Homo sapiens: one gene and its partners. The protein of the gene in region 3 purifies or fractionates together with the protein of the main gene of each other region. This does not show direct contact. Each region holds a gene or a part of one and is shown on either strand. Other genes may lie near its edges.

Region 1 (3,749 bases), on a different chromosome or scaffold from region 3:
GCAAGCCACCAGACCAGCTGCCTGGGTCTCCTCCTCCTTGTTGAGGTGACAACAAGGAACTCAGTTCAGCTCCTCCCTGGGTATCCAAATTATCCTTCCAAGTCCCAGACTCACAGCTGTCCTCCCTTCTGATTCAGCCCTGATGCTTTTCAGGGGGTCCCAGAAGTGGGATCCGGACTTGAGAGAATGTCACAGTTGAAAATGATAAGGATGCAAACGGAATGGAACTTTCAGAGAACCCCAATTTTCTACTCTAAGTTCTCCAAACCAACTCTCAAATCCAAGATAGCTGCCTTTCCTTTCTTCACCTCCTCTTCTTAGTTTTCCCCAACTTGGCTGCAAAGTCAGCCTCCCCTCTTCTCTTCCTTAGCACCTCAGACCAATAAAACATGCAACCTTTTCTTATTCTTTTTAAAAAATTTATTTTTGACCAGGCGCAGTGGCTCACGCCTGTAATGCCAGCACTTTGGGAGGCCAAGGCGGGTGGATCACGAGGTCAGGAGTTCAAGACCAGCCTGGCCAACATGGTGAAACCCCATCTCTACTAAAAATACAAAAAATTAGCTGGGTGTGGTGGCACACACCTGTAGTCTCAGCTACTCAGGAGGCTGAAGCAGAAGAATCACTTGAACTTGGGAGGCGGAGGTTGCAGTGAGCCGAGATTGTGCCACTATACTCCAGTCTGGGTGACAGAGTGAGACTGCCTCAAAAAGAAAAAAAATTATTTTGTTTGTTTTTTAGATTTTGTAGAGATGGTGTTTCCCTAAGTTGCTCAGGCTGGTCTCGAACTCCTGGCCTCAAGTGATCCTCTCGCCCGGGCCTCCCAAAGTCCTGGGATTACGGGTGTAAGCCAACATGCCTGGCCCCTTTACTTCTTCTTTTCTGTTTTGGTCACAAAACATTTCTCTGTTGATCACTGTAGTGTGTGTGTGGAGGGAAGTGGGGGAGGTACACTCTTAAGAAATGAAATAGTTAACATCTTGGTCCTAAGATTTGTTGTAGAGATGGAGTCTTCTCATTCTGTTCCCCAGGCTGGTCTTGAACTCCTGGCCTCAAGCAATCCTCTTTCCTCGGCTTCCCAAAGTGCTGAGATTGATTACAAGTGTGAGGTACTGCGCCCTGCTACAATCCTTTAATAGGATGTTTTTGGGGGGGGTGGCAGGGGGCAGGATCTAGCTCACTGTAACCTATACTGTTCCAGTGTAACCTGCACCAAGCCATCCTCCCACCTCAGTCTCTTGAGTAGCTAGGAACACAAGCACACATCACCACACCTGGCTCTAACACGATTTTGCTTTTTGCTTTTGTCATTTTGGCTGCTGTTCTTTTTATCTTTCATTCATTCAAGGTCTGAAGATGGAGATAATAGGAATCTTCTCATCTCAATGTGCTCTTTGGCCCCTCCTCTTAAACTGATGCCCCTCTCAGGCCCTGAGGGATTTGGCCTCAGGTTGCCCTGGAAGGGGTGTGAGTGATCAGACAGGTGACTGAGAGCTGGGACGCCTGAGGCCTGCCTAGGCTGAGTCACCTAGTAATGTTGTTGTCATTGTTCCTGTTGAAGTCCCAGCTCAGTGTCACAGACCTTTGTGGAAGCAACAACAGCTCCCATCCTTCCAACCTTTCTGGAGAAGCCGTGGCCTGATGGTGAGCCGAATGGGCTGGGGGGGGAGAAGAAGGCGGCTGGGGCGGTGGGGAGATCTGGGGCCCGGATCGGTGCCCCTCCTCCCCATGCCACTGCCACCTCCTCCTCCTCCTTCATGCCGGGGACCTGGGGGAGGGAGGATCTCCATCTTCTCTCTGTCCCCTGCCCCTCATACAAGAAGCTCCCCCTCCTCATTTTCCCCTCCCACCGCAGGGCCCCCTTGCTCAGTGCTACAGGGGACAGGGGCTTCTCAGTCTTGCCACAGTGCTCTCCCTATCCCAGCCACCCCCCCAACACAGGCTCAACCTGCAATGACACCTGCCTCTGCATCTCCCTCCTGGGGATCCCACTCCACCCCACCCCTGGCCCCGGCAACCCCCACTCCCTCACAGCAGTGCCCCCAGGACTCTCCTGGGCTGCGGGTAGGCCCTTTGATCCCTGAACAGGATTATGAGCGGCTGGAGGACTGTGACCCTGAGGGGTCCCAAGACTCACCCATCCACGGGGAGGAGCAGCAACCCCTGCTTCATGTCCCTGAAGGGCTCCGAGGTATGTGTGTGGGTGTGGGTGGGAGAGGGTTAGTGGTGCCTGGGAGCTCCAGTACTTATCCCAGGCTGGGCCTCTGGCAGCGGGTTGAGAACGTGGAGAATTGATCACATGCCAGGGGCTGACACTCTCCCCTCTGTGCCCAGGCTCCTGGCATCACATCCAGAACCTGGACAGTTTCTTCACCAAGATATCCTTTGCGCTAGGCCTGCAGAGGTGGCATGGGAAGGTCCTCTTGGAGCTGGCACTGTTCTTGGCAGGGAGACTCCGTGAGGGCGTCATGGGTGGGAGACTTGTTGGGGCTGAGGGGAGGTGTCCTCAGGAGAGGCCCCCCGTGCCTCAGGCTTGTTCCTTGACACGCAGCCACATCTACAGCTACCACCAGCGGAATGGCTTTGCCTGCATCTTGCTGGAGGATGTCTTCCAGCTGGGGTGAGACGCTTAGCCCGGGCCCGGAACTCGGTCCCCTGGGCCCATGGCTTCCTTCTGTCATTTTGCTTCCTTAATTGTGCCAGCTGCTTCCATCCCATGCTTTCCCGAGCAGCCCAAGGGCTCAGCAGGGGCAGGGTCAGGGAGGATAACCATGGGCTGCTCTGGGGGCTGGGGCAGGAGCCCACCTGGCTGTCCCTGATCACTGCAGCATCCCGGCACCCCCCCTTCCTCCCGGCAGACAATTTATTTTCATTGTCACCTTCACAACCTTCCTCCTTCGATGCGTGGATTACAATGTTCTCTTTGCCAACCAACCAAGTAACCATACCAGACCTGGGCCGTTCCACAGCAAAGTGACCCTGTCAGATGCCATCCTACCCTCAGCCCAGTGTGCTGAGAGGTTAGTGACAACCTGGTGGGGCCCTGGGGGTGAAGCATGGGCAGTGGGTAGAGGAGTAGACGGGAGCCCCACTTTGTCCCGTCATCTAGATCAGCAGTTCTCAAAGCTTTTGGTCTTAGGACCAAAAATACACTTAATATACTTTAAGTTGTACTTAAGTGTATTAAGTTGTACTTAAAGTGTATTAAGTATATCTTTTTTTTTTTTTAAGACAGAGTTTCACTCTTGTTGCTCAGGCTGGAGTGCAATGGTGAGGTCTTGGCTCACTGCAACCTCCACCTCCCAGGTTCAAGCAATTCTCCTGCCTCAGCCTCCCCAGTAGCTGGGATTATAGGCGTGCACCACCACGTGTATTTTTAGTAGAGACAGGGTTTCACCATGTTGGCCAGGCTGGTCTGGAACTCCTGGCCTCAGGTGATCCACCCACTTTGGCCTCCCAAAGTGCTGGGATTACAGGTGTGAGCCACTGTGCCCGGCCTTTTAAGTGTATCTTAATTACAGTGCATTAAGTGTATCTTAATACACTTAAAATTGGTTGAGAATCCTGAAAAGCTTTTGTTTATGGGAGTCGTATCTATCCACATTTTACCTTATAAAAAATTAAAATTAGGCCGGGCATAGTGGTTCACACCTGTAATCCCAGCACTTTGGGAGGCTGAGGCAGGAGGATTGCTTGAAGCCAGAAGTTTGAGATCAGCCTGAGCAACAAAGTGAGACCACATCTCTATA
Region 2 (3,399 bases), on a different chromosome or scaffold from region 3:
AGGAGTGCTGTGGGCCTGCAGGGTCCTGTTGAGTTCGAAGCTCTGAACCCACACCCTGCACTTGGTGAATGCCCTGGAGGGCCGGCGAGGTGGGGGGTCTCCTCATCCCAGAGAGGTACAAATGGGTCAGAAGAGCCCAGGGCAGGAGGCTGCGGAGGGGCTGGTCCATCTCTCCCACACCATGAGACCCCATTTTGCGTCTCCCCGCCCCATGCCACCTGCAGACAAGGTGAACCGGGATTCCGTGCGCTCCATCCAGAAGAGCATCTTCACCGTGTGCCTAGATGCAACCATGCCCAGGGTCTCAGAAGACGTGTACCGCAGCCACGTGGCAGGCCAGATGCTGCATGGGGGCGGCAGCAGGCTCAACAGCGGCAACCGCTGGTTCGACAAGACGCTGCAGGTGAGGCCCGGCAGGGCTTCGCCCACTCACACACACCTGAACAGGACCTCTGCAGCCTCGGGACTTCCTGCCCGTCCCCGGCCCTGCGTCCCCAGCCTCCTAGCTTGTAAAGCAGGCAGGAAGCCAGCAGGCTGGACGCTGCCGTAATTACCAGGCAGCCAGCCTGTCATCACCAGTCCTGCCTCTGGCCTGGAAACCGCTGTCACCCCCAGCACACCCCCTCAGCACCTCACAGAGAACCTGGGATCCGGGGTCACCAGTGCAATCCTGGCACAACAGTCCCTCTCCACACCTGTAAAATGGGGTGATGGTCAACCTCACCGGTAGAGTAGTTTGAAGGACTCAGTCAGGCACGCTGAGCGTGGGATGTGCTTAGCACACCAGGGCACCTGGTGAGTGTCAGCTATTGTTAATAACAGTAATAAGTCATCATAGCCCCTTGAGATGGCTTCAGAGAGGCCCTTGCCTCAACCAAAGAGTGGTTGGGTGAGGGGCCACCCCCCAGGGCCCTGGGGCTGACCGGGGTCTCCCTTCCCTTCCACAGTTCATCGTGGCAGAAGATGGCTCCTGTGGGCTTGTGTACGAGCATGCTGCAGCGGAGGGGCCCCCTATTGTCACCCTTCTGGACTATGTCATCGAGTACACGTGAGTACAGTCACATCTCTCGCCTAGTTCCCCAGCTTCTAGTGACAGGTGACACACAGGTGATAGACCAGCTTATAGAGAAATATCACTCTCCTTTGTGCCTGGGAATCTGTTTTTTTCCAAGGAAGCCAGCCAGATATGGTGGCTCACGCCTGTAATCCTGACACTTTGGGAGGCTGAGGTGGGAGGATCAATTGAGGTCAGGAGTTTGAGATCAGCCTGGCCAACATGGTGAAATGCCATCTCTACTAAAAATACAAAAAAAAAAAAAATTACCCAGGTGTGGTATCACATGCCTATAATCCCAGTTACTCAGGAGGCTGAGGCAGGAGAATTGCTTGAACCCAGGAGGCAGAGGTTGCGTTGAGCGGAGACTGTGCCACTGCACTCCAGCCTGGGTGACAGAGCAAGACTCTGTCTCAAAAAAAAAAAAAAAAAATTAGGCCAGGTGCAGTGGCTCATGCCTATAATCCCAGCACTTTGGGAGGCGGATCACCTGAGGTCAGGAGTTCAAGACCAGCCTGGCCAACATGGTGAAACCCTGTCTCTACAAAAATTAGCCAGGCATGATGGCGGGTGCCTGTAATCCCAGCTACTTGGGAGGCTGAGGCAGGAGAATCGCTTGAACCCGGGAGGCAGAGGTTGCAGTGAGCTGAGATCACACCATTGCACTCTAGCCTGGGTGACAGAATGAGACTCTGTTTCAAAAAAAAAAAAAAAAAAGTTAGCCACGCGTGGTGGTGGGTGCCTGTAATCCCAGCTACTCAAGAGGCTAAGGCACAAGAATCACTTGAACCCAGGAGGTGGAGGTTGCAGTGAGCCGAGATCGTTCCATTGCTCCAGCCTGGGTGACAGAGCAAGACTCTGTCTCAAAAGAAAAAGAAAAAAATTAGCCAAGGTGGCGGGCATCTGTAATCCCAGCTACTCAGGAGGCTGAGGCAGGAGAATCGCTTGAACCAGGGAGGCCAAGGTTGCAGTGAGCTGAGATCACATCACTGCACTCCAGCCTGGGCAACAGAGCAAGACTCCATCTAAAAAAAAAAAAAAAAGAAAAAAGAAAAAAAAGCTGAAGTGAGGGTGGTTTTCAGAACAAACTCACACCTCCCTGGGCTGGCCCCCTCCAGCTTCAGGTACCCATCCTCCCCACCCTGGTCCCAGAATGGACCCAGGCTCTAGAGGCACCAGCATGAGCCTGAGGCCCCGTTTACTGTGCAGGAAGAAACCCGAGCTTGTGCGGTCTCCCCTGGTGCCCCTGCCCATGCCCAAGAAGCTGCGGTTCAACATCACCCCCGAGATCAAGAGCGACATCGAGAAGGCCAAGCAGAACCTCAGCATGTAAGTGCCTGCCCCCGCCATCCCTGTGCTGGATGGGTGAGGCCAGGCCCTTGAGCTTGAGAGGCTCCTGTGCCAGCTCTGTCATGACACCCAGACCCTCCGTGGGGTTGGCAGGGGCTGCCGGGGCCTGCTCCTCACCTGCTCTTCCCACACCCCCAGCATGATCCAGGACCTGGATATCACCGTGATGGTGTTCCACCATTTTGGAAAAGACTTCCCCAAGTCGGAGAAGCTAAGCCCAGATGCCTTCATCCAGATGGCTTTGCAGCTGGCCTACTACAGGTGCGCCTCTGTGGCCCACCCATGGAGGAGGGAGGAGACCTGGGGGCAGGGGAGGGGGTGCCCGCCTCCAAGGGGCGTGCTTAGCCCCATTTCCCACCAGGATCTACGGACAGGCATGTGCCACCTATGAAAGTGCCTCCCTGCGCATGTTTCACCTGGGCCGCACCGACACCATCCGCTCGGCTTCCATGGACTCACTCACCTTTGTCAAGGCCATGGATGACTCCAGCGTCACGGTGAGAGGTCTGGGGCGAGGGTGGGTGAGCTGGGCCTGAGCCCCTCCCTCCTGCTCACTCAGTCAACACACAATAATTGAGCACCTACAGGATTCCAGCCCCATGGTGGGCACGGGGAATCTAACAGAAGCTGGAGCCGTGAATCTAGCTCTGAGCTTCCTGGGGACCAAAGAGGAAAAGGGAGTCATTCATTTGTTCATTCATTTATTCATTGGCAGTAAGCAACTGCCCTATGTCAGGCCCTGGCTGAGGACCAAGGAGTTGGTAGTTGCAATACTCGCTCTTTTTTTTTCTTGTTTTTTTTTAGAAAGAGTCTCACTCTGTTGCCCAGGCTGGAGTGCAGTGGTGTGATCTCGACTCACTGCAACCTCCACCTCCCGGGTTCAAGCAATCCTCCTGCCTCAGCCTCCCAAGTAGCTGGGACTACAGGTGCCTGCCACCATGCCCGGCTAATTTTTGTATTTTTAGTAGAAACGGGATTTCACCATGTTGGCCAGG
Region 3 (3,649 bases):
TTATTTCCTAAATTTTATTTTTGCAGTTTAACTTGTTAATTCTTTTTCTTTTTGAAAAGAGAATAGTCAACTTCTTTGGAAAATGGTTCTTAATTTATCTGCAGCCCTATTTTGAAATAAAGTGTATATGGTAAAAGAAAGATTTGTACCATTTCAATTTTTTTTGTTAAGGATTGAGACTTGAATGGCAAAAAGTTGTCTGTCTGTTTTTGAGACGGGGTCTTGCTCTGTGGTCCAGGCTGGAGTACAGTGACACGATCATGACTCACTTCAGCCTTGAACTTCTGAGCTCAAGTTATCCTCCAGCCTCAGCCTTAAATATATATATTTTTTAATTTGACAAATTTATACTTGTGGTAGGTGAAATGTTTGAATAAAGAAGTAATATAACAGGTAGTTATTTTTCCCCCAATTATAACATGACATACTTCAGTACTTGCTATTATATGTCCTGAGGTGAATCTGGTTCATTGACTCATGAGCACATCCATTAAGTGTGTGTTACAGAAACACCTTATTTATTTATTTGTTTGTTTGAGACAGGGTCTGGCTCTGTCACCCAGGCTGGAGTGCAGTGGTGCAATCTCGGCTCACTGCAACTTCCGCCCCGGCGGGCTCAAGTGATTCTCCCACCTGGGCCTCCCAAAGTGCTGGGATTACAGGTGTGAGCCATCATGCCCAGCCTATTTATTTTAATATATGCTTTGTTGCCCTTCTTTGGAAAAAGTCTTATTCTGGTTATTCTGTTATTTCTTGTTCTTGTGCTGCAAATCCCTCCATTTGGTGAGTCCACTGACTATCTCTCATCATGGTTCATTTTCTATTCTGGTCTGTAACTTTTTACTGTGATGCATCATTAGTAAAGGTTTAGTCTGTTGTATGTTTTGGAAGCATTCCTGCAAAGAGTTTTCACATTTGCTCTTACCAGGTCCTAAAGTTTTACCAGTTCAGGACTACTTTTCTTTTTTCAGTTTTTGGCATGAGGATAGGGTGGGATTCTAAACCATGAAGGTTGTGTGAATTTAGGCCCACACTCTATGCATGGTTCATGCCTCATATGGTTCTGATTTCCTCTGGTGACTTTCCCCCCATTGCCTTAGTTGATGTCATGCCTACTTGGGTTTCCTGGCCAGTAAGCTAAGTTTTTATAGTCCTGGTTTCATGGATAGGGTGATCCTTTCAGAGTTTTGACTTTATGAAGGTCCTTCCAACTGTGACCTGTGTCTTTAAATAACGTCTCTGAATGGGTGTTAGGGAGTCCCCTTGTAACCATTATGGCCTGTAACTGGTTCCATGAGTCATGTTAGCTTCAGCCCCTGACCTCTGTTCATTGACTTTCTTTTTTCTGCTCATTGACTTTCTTTCTTTCTTTTTTTTTTTTTTTTGAGACGGAGTTTTTCTCTTGTTGCCCAGGCTGGAGTGCAATGGCATGATCTTGGCTCACTGCAATCTCCACCTCTTGGATTCAAGCGATTCTCCTGCCTCACTCTCCCGAGTAGCTGGGATTACAGTCATGTGCCACCATGCCTGGCTAATTTTATATTTTTAGTAGAGACGGGGTTTCTCTGTGTTGGTCAAGCTGGTTTCAAACTCCTGACCTCAGGTGATCCACCTGCCTCAGCCTCCCAAAGTGCTGGGATTACAGGCGTGAGCCACCATGCCCAGCTAACTTTCTTCTTAGTTTCTTACTACTGTGGATTCTCTGCACTTCTTTCAAGTTCAGTTATTTAAGTAGTGTTTCAGTGCTTATATTTTTAAATATTTCATTGTGTTTGGATCTGTTTGGGTTTGAGAGGCAAAAGGATGCTGTTATACAATTTAAAATTATTTTAGATTTTTATAATTTTTAATTTGCTCATCACCTATCAACATGTCAAATATTTTGTGCCTATTATGTACTGTGTACTTTGAGAAATAAAGATCTTTGGCTAGATTCCCTCCTTCAAGAGACTTATTCCTAATATAAACCCTAGTGGAACTAAGGTATATATCTCATAAAAATGCAGTGCCAGTAGGTATCAGAAAGTAAGGCTACTGATGTGGAAAAAAGTGGTTGGAAAAGAAATGATAGAGGAAGCGAGACTTAACGTAAAATACGAAGAGTGGTTAGAACTTGATTGGGTTTGCTGGGTTAGACAAGAAGAGATTGGTCCAGCTTGAAGAGAGCCTTAAAATACCAAACCAAATAATTTAGATTATATCTTGCAGATAAGAAAAAGGCATTGGAGGTTTTTCAGTGGAAGGGACATTTAGTGCAAATAATGTTTTATAATCTTAGTGCTGAAGTTTTGGAAGACTAGTGCATTGCTCTATTAAAGAAAAGTTGGGGCAGGGCGTGGTGGCTTACACCTGTAATCCCAGCACTTTGGGAGGCCGAGGCAGGCAGATCACCTGAGGTCAGGAGTTCGAGATCAGCCTTGCTAACATGGTGAAACCCTGTTTCTACTAAAACTACAAAAAATTAGCTGGGCATGATGGTGTATGCCTGTAGTCCCAGCTACTCAGGAGGATGAGGCATGAGAATCGCTTGAAACCAGGAGGCAGAGGTTACAGTGAGCCGAGATTGCGCCAGGGCACTCCAGCCTGGGCGGCAAGAGAGACACCCTGTCTCGAAAAAAAAAAAAGAAAAGTTGGTACATCTCCCTTCTTAGAAGTTAAACTCAAGACTTTACAGGTACAAAAATAAGTTTGTTTTATAGTTCCTTGTTGTCAACAAAAGTTTACCTACTCAATGAGGATGGGCCCCAGCCTATGTTGTAAATGAGTGGAGCTGGCTGGGAACGAGAGTGGCCACTGAGAGAGCTCATGCCTCTTGGGATCTTGTTGATTGTTAAAGGTTACAAACTAGATCAAATTTTTAAAAAACACTGTTTGGCCTCAGTGAAATATGTATACAAACATAGTTTGAAACAAAAGCTGTGAGTTTGCAACCTCTTTATAGATAGCGTTCATTATTAAATCTTTATTATATTCTATCATAACATTTAAAAAATACATTATTTAAAATTGTGTACAAAATAGAAAAATGTGGCCTGTTTGATTTGAAGGGTTGAATAAGTGGCTATTTATAATTTTGGATATTTTGACTTTGTGACTTGGACATAAAAATATTTTCCAAAACTCTTTTCTTACAGGTAAAAGAATGTCACATGTCAGCATTTGTACCTGAAGTCAGCATGCAAAGTTCAGGGTACCTGGATGAATGCCAACTTTTGCATTTCCCATGTGTATCCTGTGACCATTCTATCTGGGGTGAGTGATTTCTAAGAGTAGCTGGCAACAAACCAGATGCCAGCCAGCCATGGACTGCCCTAACAAATAATGCTAGGAGTTATAAATTAAACACTGATCTGTGATCTGTGATGTGTAAGGCAGTTAATGTAGTTCATCTGGATTAACTGTCAGCACCAAAGAACTATATTCCCATAATGTGAAATCTGAATTCTGTATGTTTGAAAGAGAGTAATAATTAACAGTAGGGAATTTTTGTTAACATGTAAAATTACAGCAATGTCTAAGATTATTTTGAATTTACAGCAGTATTTTAGTGGTTCACCATATAATTTAAATAATTTTAATTTTCAGATTCAAAGACTTAGTATTTCTTGAGTGATGGTTATAATTTTGTATAAAATACGGCTTTTTGGAT

What was found.
Region 1: the proteins of FBXL4 (region 3) and ATG9B purify together in Homo sapiens (affinity purification with mass spectrometry; 2 studies listed by BioGRID and IntAct, with this or other methods). This does not show direct contact.
Region 2: the proteins of FBXL4 (region 3) and CRAT purify together in Homo sapiens (affinity purification with mass spectrometry; 2 studies listed by BioGRID and IntAct, with this or other methods). This does not show direct contact.

The regions. Positions count from the first base shown.
Region 1 is NC_000007.14:151,022,316-151,026,064, reverse strand, and holds the start of ATG9B (autophagy-related protein 9B), read left to right. Parts: upstream 1-1,570; 5' UTR 1,571-1,641; coding exon 1,642-2,191; intron 2,192-2,334; coding exon 2,335-2,378; intron 2,379-2,555; coding exon 2,556-2,620; intron 2,621-2,858; coding exon 2,859-3,020; intron 3,021-3,749. UniProt on the Homo sapiens protein: Phospholipid scramblase involved in autophagy by mediating autophagosomal membrane expansion. Cycles between the preautophagosomal structure/phagophore assembly site (PAS) and the cytoplasmic vesicle pool and supplies membrane for the growing autophagosome.
Region 2 is NC_000009.12:129,097,515-129,100,913, reverse strand, and holds part of CRAT (carnitine O-acetyltransferase), read left to right. Parts: intron 1-224; coding exon 225-403; intron 404-947; coding exon 948-1,048; intron 1,049-2,263; coding exon 2,264-2,383; intron 2,384-2,542; coding exon 2,543-2,665; intron 2,666-2,765; coding exon 2,766-2,901; intron 2,902-3,399. UniProt on the Homo sapiens protein: Catalyzes the reversible transfer of acyl groups from carnitine to coenzyme A (CoA) and regulates the acyl-CoA/CoA ratio. Also plays a crucial role in the transport of fatty acids for beta-oxidation.
Region 3 is NC_000006.12:98,927,308-98,930,956, reverse strand, and holds part of FBXL4 (F-box/LRR-repeat protein 4), read left to right. Parts: intron 1-3,134; 5' UTR 3,135-3,252; intron 3,253-3,649. UniProt on the Homo sapiens protein: Substrate-recognition component of the mitochondria-localized SCF-FBXL4 ubiquitin E3 ligase complex that plays a role in the restriction of mitophagy by controlling the degradation of BNIP3 and NIX mitophagy receptors.